Regions from separate parts of the Homo sapiens genome. Here region 2 is linked to region 1. Evidence: fine-mapped expression QTL. Tissue or cell type: whole blood. Region 1 holds a variant in brackets; the other region holds the start of a gene. All regions are shown on one strand. Distances are between the middles of the regions.

Region 1 (8,106 bases):
TAGCAGTCAGTGGCAGAAATAGGATGAGAACCCAAAGGGATGCACTTTTTATACTTGAATGAACATCAAGAACATAATTGTATTAGTCGGTTCTCACACTGCTATGAAGAAATACCCCAGACTGGGTAATTTATAAAAGAAAGGAGGTTTAATCTCACCGTTCTACATGGCTGGGGAGGCCTCACAATCATGGTGGAAGGTGAAGGAGAAGCAAAGGCACGTCTTACATGGTGGCAGGCAAGAGAGCATGTGTAGGAGAACTGCCCTTTGTAAAACCGTCAGATCTTATGAGACTTATTCACTATCACTAGAACAGCATGGGAAAACCCGCCCCCGTGATTCAATTACCTCCCACTGAGTCCCCCTCCCTCCCATGACATGTGGAAATTATGAGACCTACAGTTCAAGATGAGATTTGGGTGAGGACACAGCCAAACCTATCAATAATACTTACAAACATTATATGTTATAAACATAATACATTATAAGTGATATAATGAACATATAACAATGAAGGCTGGGTGCAGTGGCTCACGCCTGTAATCCCAGCACTTTGGGAGGCTGAGGCGGGTGGATCACCTGGTGGTCAGGAGTTTGAGACCAGTCTGACCAATATGGTGAAACCCCGTCTCTACTAAAAATACAAAAATTAGCTGGGCATGGTGGTGGGCACCTGTAAAATAAAAATAAAAATAATTAAATAAAAAATTTTGAAACAAAACAAGTAACAAAAAAAGAACATGAAACTCTGACCAGTCTCTAAGTAGATAATTTAATAGGCAATATCTACTTCTTCAAAAAGCAATTAATAATAAAACTATTTCAGGATAATTAAAAGAGATAAAATATGAAGCCCCTCGAGAATTTGCATATTTTTGCATCTCCAGTGACTAGAATAATACTGACCTTTCCTGGTTGCACTCTAATCTTTTTGCATCTTTTCTCAATCTTTTTTTACTGCATGTTCCTCTATTTACTCCTGAGGATCCAAAACAGATATGGAAGAGATAAAGAGAACTAAAAGAAACTATTCTGTGCAACTCTAGAAATGTATCTGAAAATAGAGGAAATTGATAGCTTTCTAGTAAAATATAACTTAGCAAAATTGAGCCAAGTAAAGGAAGAAAATCTAAACAGATCAATGCCCACGGAAGAGACTAGAAAGGCAATTTAAATCTAACAGTTGAAAAAGCACCAGTCTCTGGTGGTTTTGTATCTGTATTCTGTTACCCTTTACCGCAGTGCTACTCAGCTGGTTACAGAACTGTTTGCTACCAGCCCGCAAAAAGTTAAGGAGCTTGCACTGGAACATAAATCAGTATATTGCTTCCTTCATCAACAAAGTCTTTGCTAAAAAACAAAAAACAAAACTCAGCTAAATAGTACATTCGAGCTAAATAGTATGTTTGATTTATACTTTAGTGCCTGCAGAACACATTTTGAGTAGCATTGCTTTATGAATAGATAATTTCTGTTATGTAAACTCTTTCAGGCTATAGGAAAAAAACCACTAAAAATCTCTAAAACATTGTATGAAGGCATCTCAATCTACAAATCTAAATAAGATACTAACAGAAAAAAAAGAAAGAAGAGAAGAGAAAAGGAAGGAAAATAAATACTCTAGATATTAGAGATTTCATAGAGAACAAGTCAGAGTATTGGCTGGAGGAGATTATGGTTTAGTGGAGGGAGACTGGGCACAGTATAAAAACAATATGCTGGCAAGTACTACTAAGAAGATAAAATAGGGAAATGTGGTGAGTTACTGGGGTGGGGAAAATCCACTTTAGCTGCTGTAACAGAGATCATCGTTTTTTGAAAATATAAAAATTTAAATAGTTAACACATGCACTTTGTACAAAATTCAAAAGCTATAAAAGTCAGGAGAGGCTGCCAATTTGGGGGAATAGGTGGAAATTCCAAATAGTTCAAAACGATTGTGACACTTGAGAGAAGGAAGAGCTGGGGGTATGGGTTATGACACTTCTGCCCAGCAGCCTTCCAGGTGTGCAGTCCCTAAGAGCCTACAGCCAGGACCTAATGACACTGCATTCAGAAACAATTTAAATTGCAGGAAACAGTTCATTGCCAGTTGTTAATTTATTGCTAGATGTTACTGTTTTTTTAAAAGTGTTTGGGGGAATTGTTCTTCCTCAAAGTGAGAGACGAGCATGTGTACAGGGTATAGAACTATAGCTTTTCTGGGCCCATCACTGAAAAGGGAGCAGTGGGAGAAAGAGAAGAGGACCCATAGGCATTGCACACCTACTGTGTCCCATGCATTTTGCTTGTGTTACTTCCGTTCATGCATATTTGGAAGCCTCTATTCTGAACAAGAGCCCCTTACCCCACTGAAGATCCAAACTAAAGCCGCCTTTCACAGGAACCACAGCAAGAGGCAGCCAGTCAACTGCTCCTGTGGGAGAGAGGGAGGGAAGGGGCAAAACAGGGGCAACAGCATGGGCTGAGAACTTCTCCAGCCTCAGTTCTCCCATGCTGCCACTCACTACATTGCCTCCTTGTTGAACCATCTAAAATTCCCCTCCACACCATTTAATTTCCCCCTCCAACAAAGACCCTCTCCTTGACCAAACCTGACTCATGCTCCTCTGAGCCTTCTTCTCCACTTAGACTCCACTAAGACCTTGGCACCTGTCCTGTCTTTGGCCTGCCTAGCCCAGTATGAACAAGAATATTGCTAAGTCAGTTTAGGGAGAATTCCCTCCATTTTGTGGTCTGATCACCACTGATACCTGAGCAAGTTCCTCATCCTCCACCTTTGATGTCTAAGTCCTTGGCTTTCCTTCAGTGAGAATCCTGCTAGTTCAGTTTAGCAAGAATCTCTCTACCCTTGATGTCTCCTCCTAGTAATTTTTCACCCACCAACCCCGTCACTCTGCTCCTTGACTATAAGTATCCATTTGTCCAAGCTGTGTTCAGAGTTGAGCCTGATCTCTCTCTCCTATTGCAATAGTCTTAAATAAAGTCTTCCTTATAGCATTTCAACAAGTGTCAGAATGACTTTTTTGTAGTGCCCCTACACCTTTGTATACCAGAAGCCCCTAAAATGAGCCTTTGTCATTGTCCTACCTTCAGGCCAGGAAACTGATCAAACTTGATCTTCTCTGCAAATTTACCATCTTCTTTTCCCCTTACTGTTAGTCCATAGCGTAGCATTTACCTCTCAGATTGTCTCTGACACCCTTTAGCACAAGGATTCCCTTATCCATTTTTTTCTTTTCCTTTTTTTTTTTTTTTTTTTTTTTTTTTTTTTGTTTGTTTTTGAGATGGAGTCTCGCTCTTGTTGCCCAGGCTGGAGTGCAATGAAACGATATAGGCTCACTGCAACCTCCACCACCCGGGTTCAAGCAATTCTCCTGCCTCAACCTCCTGAATAGCTGAGATTACAGGCACATGTTACCACGCCCGGCTAATTTTTGTACTTTTAGTAGAGATGGGGTTTAGTCATGTTGGCCAGGCTGGTCTTGAACCCTAACCTCAGGTGATCTGCCCGCCTCAGCCTCCCAAAGTCCTGGGATTACAGGTTTGAGCCACCCTGCCCGGCCACTTTTTTTTTTTTTTTTTTTTTTGAGACAGCATCTCACTCCGTCGCCCAGGCTGGAGTGCAGTGGCACGATCATGGCTCACTGCAGCTTCGACCCTCCTGTAGTCAGGTGATCCTCCTGCCTCAGCCTCCCAAGTAGCTGGGACTACAGGCATGCACCACCACACTTGGCTAGTTTTTGTATTTTTTTTGTAGAGATGGGGCTTCGCCATGTGGTCCATGCTGGTGTCAAACTGCTGGGCTCAATGATCCACCAAACAGCCCCTAGACTGGGGCTTAGCCTTGGAGAATTATTGACCTCACCCAGGAAAAAATTCAAAGATGAGCTGGTGGTGTTAGACAGCAATCTTTTATTGAATGGTACTGCTTCTTGCAGAGCAGGGCGAATTCATAGGCAGTGCACCCAGAGTCAGCAACATATGGGCACTTGGAAACTGTATTTATACTCACTTATGCCCACTTTTAAGTATATGCAAATTAAGGAAAGGTTAATGCAAAATGAGATGGGTTATTTAGAACTTCTTGGAAAGGGATGGTAACTTCTGGGTCATTGCCATGGTATTTATAAACTGTCATGGCACTAGTGGGAGTGTCTCACACTAATAAGCAAGGAGGGCAGGTAGGGAGC[A/C]CTTTTGTTGCCATCTGCTGGTTTTGGCCAGTTTCTTCACATTATCCTGTCTGAACTAGATCCTATTTTCGTCAGCAGGGTTGTGACCAGAAAACAAGTCCTATCAGTCTCCTACCTCACTTCCCCCTTAGAAATTAGATACACTTCCTGATTTTTTTTTTTTTTTTTTTTTTGAGATGGAGTTTTGCTCTTGTTGCCCAGGCTGGAGTGCAGTGGTACAATCTCGGCTCACTGCAACCTCTGCCTCCTGGGTTCAAGCAATTCTCCTGCCTCAGCCTCCCAAGTAGCTGGGATTACAGGCGAGCACCACTACACCCGGCTGATTTTTGTACTTTTAGTAGAGATGGGGTTTTGCCATCTTGGCCAGGCTGGTCTCGAACTCCTGGCCTCAGTTGATCCACCTGCCTCAGCCTCCCAAAGTGCTGGGATTACAGGCATGAGCCACTGTGTCTGGCCAAAGCCTCCTAATCTTAAGGGGGCTGCAGAGGGGTGAAGGTCCATCTTCTGTAACTACTTCTTGCTGATTTTATGGGCATAGACCCCGCCTAGTATTGGCAGTGTAAAAGTCTCTGGATACCTGACCTAAGAGGCCCAATGGCAGGATGTTTTTCTTTTCCAGGTCCAAAGACCGGATGAGTTGGAAGCCTTGTGCTGGCATCATCTTTATGTGGAATCTAGAAGATACAAAGTTTACGAGGGAGGCTAAACAAGAAAATTACAATTAGGAGGAAGAGAAAAATTAATGCTCCTACCCCCACCCACAGCATCCTGTTATTTATCTATGTGCTTGCAAAACAACAGCCTTAAGTTTCTAGGTTCATAAATGTAGGTTGTGGTGTGCTCCTTTTATGCCCATGGGGAACTCATAAGACACAGGTTTAATCCTGGACAGGTGTACACAGCTAGTGACTCTCTGAAGCTTAACAGCAGTGACAGTATTTATCAATACCTGAAGGGGCCCTTCCATTTTGGTTTTAACTGATGATCAGGGGATCTTTTTTTGAAGTTTTTAGTAACACTAAGTCTTCTGATTGAACCGAGGAGCTATTTATTTTTCTCTGTGGGAAAGGCCAATACTTTATTTTCAAAATTTTTAAAGACCTTTTGAACCTGGCCTAAATTCCAAGGGAAAGGCATAGTGAGGCAGCTGACTCCCTGTTTCCTGTCATGGCCTGAGTTACTTTTTCCATTTTTTTGGCAGGGGGAGGGATTCTCTTTGGCCAGCAGACTTAGAGTCCAATGACTTGTAGCCAATTAAACATTCTAGGCCAGATAGAAGTGGAGGTGGGCATGTATTCATTAGCCCTCAAAGCCCTTTTAAGCAATATAAGAGTCAAAAACTGGCCAGGCGTGGTGGTTCACTCCTGTAATCCCAGCACTTTGGGAGGCCGAGGCGGGTGGATCACGAGGTCAGGAGATTGAGACCATCCTGATCAACATGGTGAAACCCCATCTCTACTAAAAATACAAAAATTAGCCGGGCGTGGTGGCATGCGCATGTAATCCCAGCTACTCGGGAGGCTGAGGCAGGAGAATTGCTTGAACCAGGGAGTCAGAGATTGCAGTGAGCCGAGATCAAGCCACTGTACTCCAGCCTGGTGACAAAGTGAGACTCCGTCTCAAAAAAAAAAAAAAAGAAAAGAAAAAGAGAGTCAAAAACTAAAAGCCAAAAATAAAGTTATATTCAAGGAAAACCACGAGCATAGAATTAAGCTGTATTCAGGAAAAACACTGGTCCCGCAGACCTCTAAGAAAACACTTTAGCATCAGATCACAGCAACTGTCAGAACTGCAGGAGAAAAAGTCACAGGAGCTGATGAAAAAGCTGAAGGAGAGAGTTACACAAATTTGAAAAGCTTTCAAAAGAAATATATCACAGAATGGAAAAGCAAAAGTTCTGGTAATTTAGCAAATGAACACCTAAAGAAAACCCAGTTTCAACACATAGGCTTTTTTTTTTTTTTTTCTTTTCCTTTTCTTGAGACAGAGTCTTACTCTTGTCACACAGGCTGGAGTGCAATGGCACGATCTTGGCTCACTGCTCGAACCTCTGCCTTCCTGGTTCAAGCGATTCTCCTCCTCAGTCTCCCGAGTAGCTGGGATTACAGGCTCACACCACCACGCCCAGCTAATTTTTGTGTTTTTAGTAGATACGGGGTTTCACCATATTGGCCAGGCTGGTCTGGAACTCCTGACCTCAGGTGATCTGCCCACCTTGGCCTCCCAAAGTACTGGCATTACAGGTGTCAGCCACTGCGCTTGGCACATAGATCATTTTCTAGAAAGTCTACCACAAACAATTTCCCATCAATCATAGCCAGCTTAGTCAAACACTTAACTCCCCTCACAAATTCCCCTTCATGAGCCCCTCACAGCCCACACAGACCGTCCATGACATGTCTGGACCCTCTGACCCATCCTACGTCACCTCCCTCCCAAACACCAGTGACTTTATTCTAGTACAAGAATCTACCACACAAGATTTCTCGTTACACAAGATCATTTAAAAATATATATATTCCACCCCACCAAAAAAAAAAAGTCTTCTATCCATAACTCACCACATATCTCTCTTTTTTATTCGCAGATTCCTTTATATTTTGAACCTCCCTTTTAATAATTTCTGAATTGAACAAGTTATTCTTTTTCACAATAAAGAATATATATCTTCCCTGGTACATTATATATAAATTTAGAAAGCAAAGAATCCTGAACTATCAGATATTGACATTCTATAGATGAGAACCACTCTATAATTTTAAGATTGATTGATTGATTGATTGATTGATTGATTGATTGATTTTGAGACAGGGTCTCACTGTCACCCAGGCTGGGGTGGAGTGGTACAGTCTCAGCTCACTGCAATCTCCACTTCCTGGGCTCAAGCGATCCTCCCATGTCAGCCTCCCAAGTATCTGGGATTACAGGTGCATGCCACCATATCCAGCTAATTTTTGTATTTTTTGTAGAGATGGGATTTCATCATGTTACTCAGGCTGGTCTCAAACTCCTGCTCAAGCAATCTGCCTGCGTTGGCCTCCCAAAGTGCTGGGATTACAGGTGTTAGCCACCATGCCCAGCCAATCTTAAGATTTTAAACTACACAAAAAGTTCAACATTTAAAGCCATTTTAACCATTCTAAAGCCTATGAAAATTAGTATTTTATCTAAGTAAAAAGCTTAAAGTTAAATTTTAGAAGTCACAATATTCCCTTCAAACTAACAAATTTAGTCCTATTTGTTTAATTTATGAGTGCTCTTTTATTTATAAGCCAATGTTTTGGTTTTGTTTTGTTTTGTTTTGTCTTATTTTTGTTTCCGAGATGGAGTTTCACTCTTGTTCCCCAGGCTGGAGTGCAACGGGATGATCTCTGCTCACTGGAACCTCTGCCTCCCAGGTTCAAGTGATTCTCCTGCCTCAGCCTCCAGAGTAGCTGGGATTACAGGTGCACGCCACCACACCCAGCTAATTTCCGTGCTTTTAGTAGAGGTGAGGTTTCACCATGTTGGCCAGGCTGGTCTCGAACTCCTGATCTGAGGTAATCCACCTGCCTCAGCCTCCTAAAATGCTGGGATTACAGGCCTGAGCCACTGTGCCCAGCCTATGAACCAATTTGATAGCATGCTAGACACAACACACATCACACAAATGAAGTGACCTATACAAGACAGCTGGATCTGTTATTTACAAAATTGGGACCTGTCTACCTGGCCAAATATCGTTTGCTCCAATAGGTATGGAAGACAGGAAGAGGCAGGGAAGGGGATCTTGTAGCATCAAATAAGGAAAGGAAGGGGCAAAGCCCATTGCTAAAGGGGAGACCTCAGAGTCCCTGAGCTGCTAGAGAGGTCACCCAGCAGCAGAGACACGGAAGAAGAATGTTTGGGTGGCTACTTGTCTGCCACTGTGGGA
Region 2 (8,106 bases), 200 kb after region 1:
ATAAGGATCCGCGATCCATTGTGACATGTCCAGATGATATTTGAATTTGACTTTTTTTTTTCTTTTTGGAGACACAGCCTGTCTTTTTCACCCAGGCTGGAGTGCAGCAGCACAATCTCGGCTCACTGCAACCTCCACTTCCTGGGTTCAAGCGATTCTTCTGCCTCAACCTCCTGAGTAGCTGGGACTGCAGGCGTGCACCACTATGCCTAATTTTTGTATTTTCAGTAGAGATGGGGTTTCACCATGTTGGCCAGGCTGGTCTTGAACTCCTAGCCTCAAGTAATCTGCCCTCCTCCGCCCATGAGCCACTGCACCTGGCCTCAAATTTGATTTTAAAACCTCTTTCCCTATTTGAGAATTTAGGTCTCTATTATTATGCAACCAGTGGCTACTCTATTATGACATATTGCTTCATTCACACTTGGTAACGAGCTATTAAATGAAGTATGTTGAGATTTTTTTCTTAGAGTATCATCATTATTATTATTATTATTATTGAGACAGGGTCTCACTCTGTTGCCCAGACTGGAGTGCAGTGGCGCGATCTTGGCTCACTGCAACCTCTACCTCTTGGGCTCAAGCGATTCTCCTGCCTCAGCCTCCCAAGTAGCTGGGACTACAGGCACATGCCACCATGCCCGGCCAATTTTTTGATTATTAGTAGAAATGGGGTGTTGTGATGTTGCTCTCCAACTCCTGGGCTCAAGGGATTCCCCCACCGTGGTCTCCCACAGTGCTGGGATTACAGGCATGAGCCACCGGGCCAAGCCAGCATTTCTTGTTTGATAGACTAAGCGTAAATTTCTCAAGGATCAGCTGGTTCTTCTAGTTTGTATGAGCAAAGATATGCTGCTCTGTCTGGATCAAGATCTCTTGCTGTCTCCGCGCTCAGCCCCATGGGCTCTCGCCTGCAGACACATGCAGCTGCGAGATTTCAGGAGGCTCCACAGGCTCTGCAGGGCCTCGGGCAGCCCCTCCCCAGTGAGGGCACTGCAGCCCCGGAGCTCCCAGCAGTGGTCCTGGAATCTCTCTAGACTCAGCCTGTTTCTGATCTTAAGCAGCGGAAGTGCATCAGGTGCCTCCTGCTTGTTGGCCAGCACCAAGAAGGGGACGCCAGCCATGTTGGGGTCGTTCAGGACTTCTGTGAGCTCAGCCGCCGACTCGGGTAAGCGGGCTTCATCTGTGCTGTCCAGCACGTACACGAGGATATCTGTGCCTTCCAGATAGTCCTTCCAGCTGGCTCTGAGCGGGGCCTGCCCCCCAACGTCCCAGAGAGTCAGTGACACGTGCCCAGGAGCTTTCAGAGGCTCCACGTTGAAACCAACAGTGGGCAGGGTCTCCACCAGCTGGTGGCCCTTCAGCTTGTAAAGGAGCGTGGTCTTGCCCGCCGAGTCCAGGCCCATCATCACCACCTGGGCTTCCGCCTTGTGACCTCTGGAATTCACAGAACCCATGGTGGCCACTGCTGAATCCTAGGGGAGAAAGGCCAGGGCACACATCAGCTACTGTCTTCTGAAGGAAGACAAATCCATCCTGGTGCAGTGGCTCACACCTGTAATCCCAGCACTGTGGGAGGCCAAGGCAGGAGGATCACTTGAGCCCAGGAGTTTCAAACAAGCCGAGGCAACAAAGCAAGGACCCGCCTTCTCTACAAAAATTGAAATTAAAAATGGAGCACAAATCTGTGCAGGCAAACAACGGAAGAGTTTTTCCAAAACAGGAAAAGTCTTCACAGGGTCAGATTTTAAACAGATGCCTGGGCTTTGAAGGAAGTGAGGATGTGTGAGTCACCATCAGCTAACCTGTCTCTGGGTCAGATAAGAGTGGTCCCTGAGCAGAGAAGATCAGGGGCCTCCTGGAAGACATTCCTGAGGAGTTAAAGCAAAGAGGCAAAATGAAGTTCCAGTCAGACAGAGCTGGTTCAGTAGAAATTACAGAACGATGTCTTCAATTCTTGCTGGTCTGTGGCTTCTAACCTCTTCTCCTCCTATAAGCCTAAATGCTGAAATGGAAGCTAAGCTGGGTTCCATGCACAGAGTGAGAAGGATGGTTCAGCTCACGGTGACCTCTCTTTAGAGCTTCCCAAGGACCAGTACTATGTCTTGGAAACACAGTGAGGTGTCACTTAATGACGGGGACACATTCTGAGAAATGCTTCATTAGGCAATTTCATCATTTTACAAAATCATAGATTGTAATTACACAAACGTGGATGGTCTAGTCTACTCCACACCTAGGCTATATGGTATGGCCCATTGCTCCTGGGCTACACACCGGTACAGCATTCCTGTAATGGGTACTGTAGGCTATTGTAACACAGTGCTAAGTATTCGTGTATCTAAACATAGAAAAGGTAGTGGTTGCACCACAACACTAAGCTGAAAAATAGGAATTTTTCAGCTCTGTTATAATCTTATGGGACCACCGTTGTATATGTGGTCTGTCGTTGACTGAAATGTCTTCATGCAGTGCCTGACTGGGGCTATTTATAAATACTGTTTACTGGGGGCAAATTTATGAGTCAGAGCAAAGCAGTTTCCTCCACTGTCTTACCAAGGTCAATGACTTCTACAACACTCCACATGTGCTTTTTTGTTTGTTTTTGGGTTTTTTTGTTTTGTTTTGTTTTGTTTTGTTTTGAGACAGGGTCTCACTCTGTCGCCCAGGCTGGACTGCAGTGGCATGATCACAGCTCACTGCAGCCTCGACTTCCCAGGCTCAAGCCATCCTCCCACCTCAGCCTCCCCAGTAGCTGGGACTATGGGCATGTGCCATCACACATTTTTGTTGTTGTTTTGAGACAGGGTCTCACTGTGTCACCCAGACTGGAGTGCAGTGGTGCAATCTTGGCTCATCACAACCTCTGCCTCCCTGCAACCTCCGCCTCCTAGGTTCAAGGGATTCTCCTGCCTCAGCCTCCCGAGTACCTGGGATTACAGCTACTACTACCACCCAGCTACTTTTTGTATTTATATTAGAGACGAGGTTTCACCATGTTGGCCTGGCTGGTATTGAACTCCTGACCTCAAATTATCCACCTGCCCGGCCTCCCAAAGTGCTGGGATTACAGGCGTGAGCCACTGTGCCCAGCCACATATGTTTTTAAAGAATCCCAAATTTTAAGACATAAGACCTGTTCCCAACTTAGACGATGCCTGCGTGGAACAGAGAAGAGACATCTCAACTTCCGGGAATGGGGGTGGGGGGATATGAGCTGCCTCTGGAAGGAGGTAAGCCTCTACTCATCCCTACTCCCAAGGGTAGAAAAGTAAAAAGTTAAAATTACCTCTGTGTTACTATTAGACTGCAGCTGTGAGATCCTGCGTGGCTCTCCTCCCCTATGGAGCTGCTTTCTGCTGGCCAGGCATGACCCAAGAGCGAGATGGGAAGGAAGCAGAGCAGCCGTTGCTGCTTCTCCTTTTTGTGCTTCCTTTTCCCAGGTGGCTGGGGGGCGGGGCTGGTGTCACGGCCCCTCCCTCAGCCCTAGGGCGCCTCAGAGCAGTCATCTTGCTGGGCTTGCCACAGAGAGGTCCCCGGCTCTGCAGGTCCTGGCAGAGCAAGGCCCAGTGACAGCTCCATTTTTTAGCAACTCAGACTTGGGTGCCTGAAGGAGGGAGCACGAGCTCGGAGCTGTGTCCAAGCGCAGCCGCCTTCTCTCTTCCCTCAGGATCCTCTGAGCTCCTCGCAGAGAATTCTGACCTCTTCCTTTCAGTACATGCCTCAAGGTTTTTCTGGTGGCTAGAGATTCTCTGATTTGCTTGGAATCACACATGGTTTGTTGTTGTTGTTGTTGTTGTTTTGTTTTGTTTTCTATTTGAGACCGAGTCTTGCTCTGTCGCCCAGGCTGGACAGCAGCCTCCGCCTCCAGGGCTCAAGCGATCCTCCCTCCTCAACCTCCTAAGCAAGTGGGATTATAGGCAGGTGCCACCATGCCCAGCTGATTTTTGTATTTTTCATAAAGACAGGTTTCACCATGATGGCCAGGCTGCACATGTGTTCTTTTAAAAGCTGCCTATGGCCAGGCGTGGTGGCTCAGGCCTGTAATCCCAACATTTTGGGGGGCTGAGGTGGGTGGATCACGAGGTCAGGAGTTCGAGACCAGCCTGGCTAACATGGTGAAACCCCGTCTCTACTAAAAATACAAAAATTAGCTGGGCGTGGTGGCACCTACCTGTAGGCCCAGCTATTTGGGAGGCTGAGGCAGGAGAATGGCATGAACCCGGGAGGCGGAGGTTGCAGTGAGCCCAGATCACACCACTGCACTCCAGCCTTGGTGACAGAGCGAGACTCTGCCTCAAAACAAAAACAAAAACAAAAAACAAAAAAAGCTGTCTACATATGATGAAAACATTCTTTAAAAGGTATGTATGATGCAGATCAACCTTTAAAATTGTGTTAATGTAGTGATTAAAGTTACCGTTCAATTTTTTCTTGAATGGTGTCACTGTGTTTTTCCCAGTAAAAATGACACCTCTAGAAAATGTAATTTTTAAAAAATTGGCTAGTCGCCGGGCATGGGGGCTCATGCCTGTAATCCCAGCACTTTGGGAGGCCAAGGCAGGAGGATCGCTCAAGCTCAGGAGTTCAAGACCAGCCTGGCCAATATGGTGAAACCACGTCTCTACAAAAAATAATAAATTAACCAGGCATGGTGATGTGTGCCTGTAGTTCCAGGTACTTGGGAGATTGAGGCCCAAGAACTGCATGAGCCCAGGAGGTGGAGGCTGCAGTGAGCTGAGATCACAGCACTGCACTCCAGCCTAGAAGACAGAGTGAGACTCTGTCTCTCTCCTATTTTTTTTTTTTAATTGAGATGGAGTCTCGCTCTGGCGCCCAGGCTGGAGTGCAATGGCACAATCTCGGCTCACTGCAACCTCCGCCTCCTAGGTTCAAGCAATTCTCCCACCTCAGCCTCCCGAGTACCTGGGATTACAGGCACGTGCTACCATGCCTGGATAATTTTTTTATTTTCAGTAGAGACAGGGTTTTGCCATGTTGGCCAGGCTGGTCTCCAGCTTCTAATCTCGAGTGATCTGCCCGCCTCGGCCTCCCAAAGAGCTGGGATTACAGGTGTGAGCCACTGCACCCAGCCGAGACTCTGTCTCAAAAAAAAAAAGAAAAAAAGAAAAAAAATTGACTAGTCAGAAACCACTGATTCAGTAGGTATTGAATTTGGATATGGAGTCACAGTGATTTAGCTCTTATAACCAGTAATCTTTGTGCTGTTTTCTGCTTTCCCATGCATTATTTCATTAAAATATCAAGACTCAAGTTGGATGTTATGACTCTTCCATTTTACAAGAAAAGAAGCAGGCTCGGTTGGAAGGCCGAGGCGGGCAGATCACAAGGTCAAGAAATCGAGACCATCCTGGCCAACATGGTGAAACCCCATCTCTACTAAAAATACAAAAATTAGCTGGGCATGGTGGCGCACACTTGTAGTCCCAGCTACTCGGGTGGCTGAGGCAGGAGAATCGCTTGAACCCGGAAGGCGGAGGTTGCAGTGAGCTGAGATCGCGCCACTGCACTCCAGCCTGGTGACAGAGCAAGACTCTGTCTCAAAAAAAAAAAAAAAGAAGCAGGCTGGGACAGGGTGAATCATTGACTCATGATCTTGCTGCGTTTTATAATTCATCTCTTTCTCTTTTACCATGTCATGCTACTCACACAGAAAGTGCCTTGTAAATGGCAAACACCAGATTGTTGTTGTCATTGTTTTTGTTAAGCTACTGTATTTTAGCAGGAAGAACTGATTAGGAAAAGTCAGAAACTCAAAGTGTGTTATGTGCACCACTGTGTGAGGGTATTGATGCTGCTCTTGGTTTGCTCTTTTCAGTGCCTGTGGTCAGTGATCATCCTTTTTCAAGGCCAGGGGGTGTGTGGGGAGGAGACAGAAACAGATAGAGTGCTCCTGGGGGTGGAATTATCCCAGGGAAGTCTCAGAGCAATAAAGAATCGTCTGGTGGAGGGCTTGTCATTCTCGCCCAAACTGCAGCGGGATCGGCTCACGCTGGGACTAAGTCCTGTCCGGGCCCAGCTGCTGAGTCAGCAGGAATCCTGCAAGGGCCCGATTTGCAGGAAGATTGGGGCCGGACGAGGATGACAGCAGGCCAAGGTTGAGGGGCTCCTGGGGGTGGGGGAGCTGGGGTGCTGCTCTGACCCAGTTCCCAGAGCAGCACCAGGGCTAGGTTTGGGCCCCATGGAGGCAGGGAGGGAGCAGAAGCTGTAGAAGCATTAGCACAGTGGCTTGGAGGCACCATGCCAGGCTGCCTGGGTGACCTATGCCCTGGGTGACACAGAGAGAGAAGGGACACTCCCCTTGGCCTCTAGCCTGGAGCTTGGGGCCACATGGCCAGGCTGCAGGCTGCCTCTGGAGGTAGCTGCGTGGCACTGACCACAGAATCTGAGACAGGCACCGCCATCAAGGGGCCGGCTGGCAGTCAGGGGTGGATCTGTGAGCACTGCTGGGGGGCACAGGCTCCCCCAGACATCAAGGAGCCTTGCCTGAGGGCCAAAGTCTTGTGTTCGCTGGGAAACCATGATTACTTTGTGACCCCAGTTCTGCCCAAAGGCCCTTGTGGCCTGAGTTTCTCTGTACAGCCCCGACCCTGACCCCTTCAGCTCAACCAGCAGGGAAGCTTTTCATTAGACACCCCAACGTGGGGAGGCTCACGAGGGCTACTGCCCCGGGAGGCAGCGCAGAGCAGAAGGTAACAGTGTGGCTTTGATTTGGGTCCACCTGGGGGCACACTTGGCCTCCACTGCTTATTTGCTGTGAACCTCAACCTGAATTTCTCTGCACCTCAGTTTCCTTCTCTATAAAATGAGGTTGATGACGATAATAATGGTACCTAACTTGAAGGGTTATTGGAAGGATTTAATAAGTGAAGACACATCAAGTACTTAGCCCAAAGCCTGGCGTCTAGTCCCAGACTAGTTCTGTTAGAGAAGGACAGGAGAGCCCTCAAACGTAGTGGTGTGGCTGGAGAAAGTGACGCTGGTGAATGTGCAAGCCCCAGCACCTTTGTGTGTCTGTGACTGCAGCTTCCAGACCTGGAATAAGGAAAAGGGGCTACACGGGGCTCACTGATACCAGGAGAGACAAAGGTCTTAGGCCCCATCTCTACTGCCCTAAGAGTGTGAGTTTAGAAATGTCCTCCTGCCAACTCTCATACAGGTGGTCAGGCCTGGAGGAGCACGGCACGCCCATTGCACTCACCAAAAAATAACTTGTAAGCCAGGATGCTTCTTCTGATGTTTCTTATGGGATCTGTTTGACCCAAGAGCTGGGGCGGTTTTCTGTGCAGCACAGCTAAGGGAAGGCAGGGGGCCAGGGGCACGCAGAGGACACACACAGGGACTGAAGGAGTCAACTGTAGGGACGACATCCAAATGGGTTGCTGGAAGACCATGGAAAGTTGGTGGTTTTTAAGGGGTTGTTTATCATGCAACAGAGCCTCGTGGTCACTTTTCTGCTCTCTACAGATAGGTCCAAAGGAGGAGAGTGCTAGAACAAGAGCTTTATTCTCCTGGAAAGTGCTAGAGAAACATGGACGGAGTCTCTTGTCCAGCCCTCCTTTCCCTGGGCTCCATAACGGCCCCCACCTTTTTATCTTGTTGTGACCTCCTCTTGCTCTGGTCTCTCACTTTCTCAACTTGCAATATGCAAATTAATAACTTTTTTCCAGGGACTGCCTCTTTTAAAAATCAAATTCTATTTCTTTCTATTTTCAAGCCATCCATACAAAATTCTGAAGGTACAAAAGAGTAGAGCATCAAGGACGTTCTCCTTTCACCGCAGTGCTCCAGCCATGCCAGACCCTCCCTGGGAAACAGCTCACACCATTGGTTTCTTAGACATTTTTCCAGAGATATTCTACGCACATATAAGCAAGTAGGGTGCATTGGGGTTTTTTTCATGGTTTTCCTTTTTTTTTCCCTCAATAATCACTTACTTTGAGGAATGCAATTTCTTGTATAAATCTCTCAATCAGAAGTTCTCAGCCATGAGCTGTGTTGAGGATCAGTGGGAGACAAAGGGGAGGAGAGACAGCCAGGAACCCTAGGAACCATCCACCTTTCCTACCCACCACCAAGTCCCCA

The links. PIP is the estimated chance that this variant, and not a neighbour inherited with it, causes the effect.
Region 2: ARL11 starts here. The variant in region 1 is fine-mapped to the expression of ARL11 in whole blood (TOPMed, PIP above 0.99).

Annotation. Positions count from the first base shown.
Region 1 is chr13:49,824,799-49,832,904 of GRCh38, reverse strand. No RefSeq gene overlaps it. Among named protein-coding and RNA genes, the nearest start is that of KPNA3, 36 kb to the right of the region's middle. The variant A/C (reference allele first, on the strand shown) is at 4,194.
Region 2 is chr13:49,623,799-49,631,904 of GRCh38, reverse strand. It overlaps ARL11 (ARF like GTPase 11), which reads right to left and starts at 3,398. Exons shown (of 2, transcript NM_138450.6): 1 at 3,290-3,398; 2 at 1-1,475. The coding sequence starts at 1,457. The coding sequence ends at 867. RefSeq lists an enhancer at 3,097-3,146.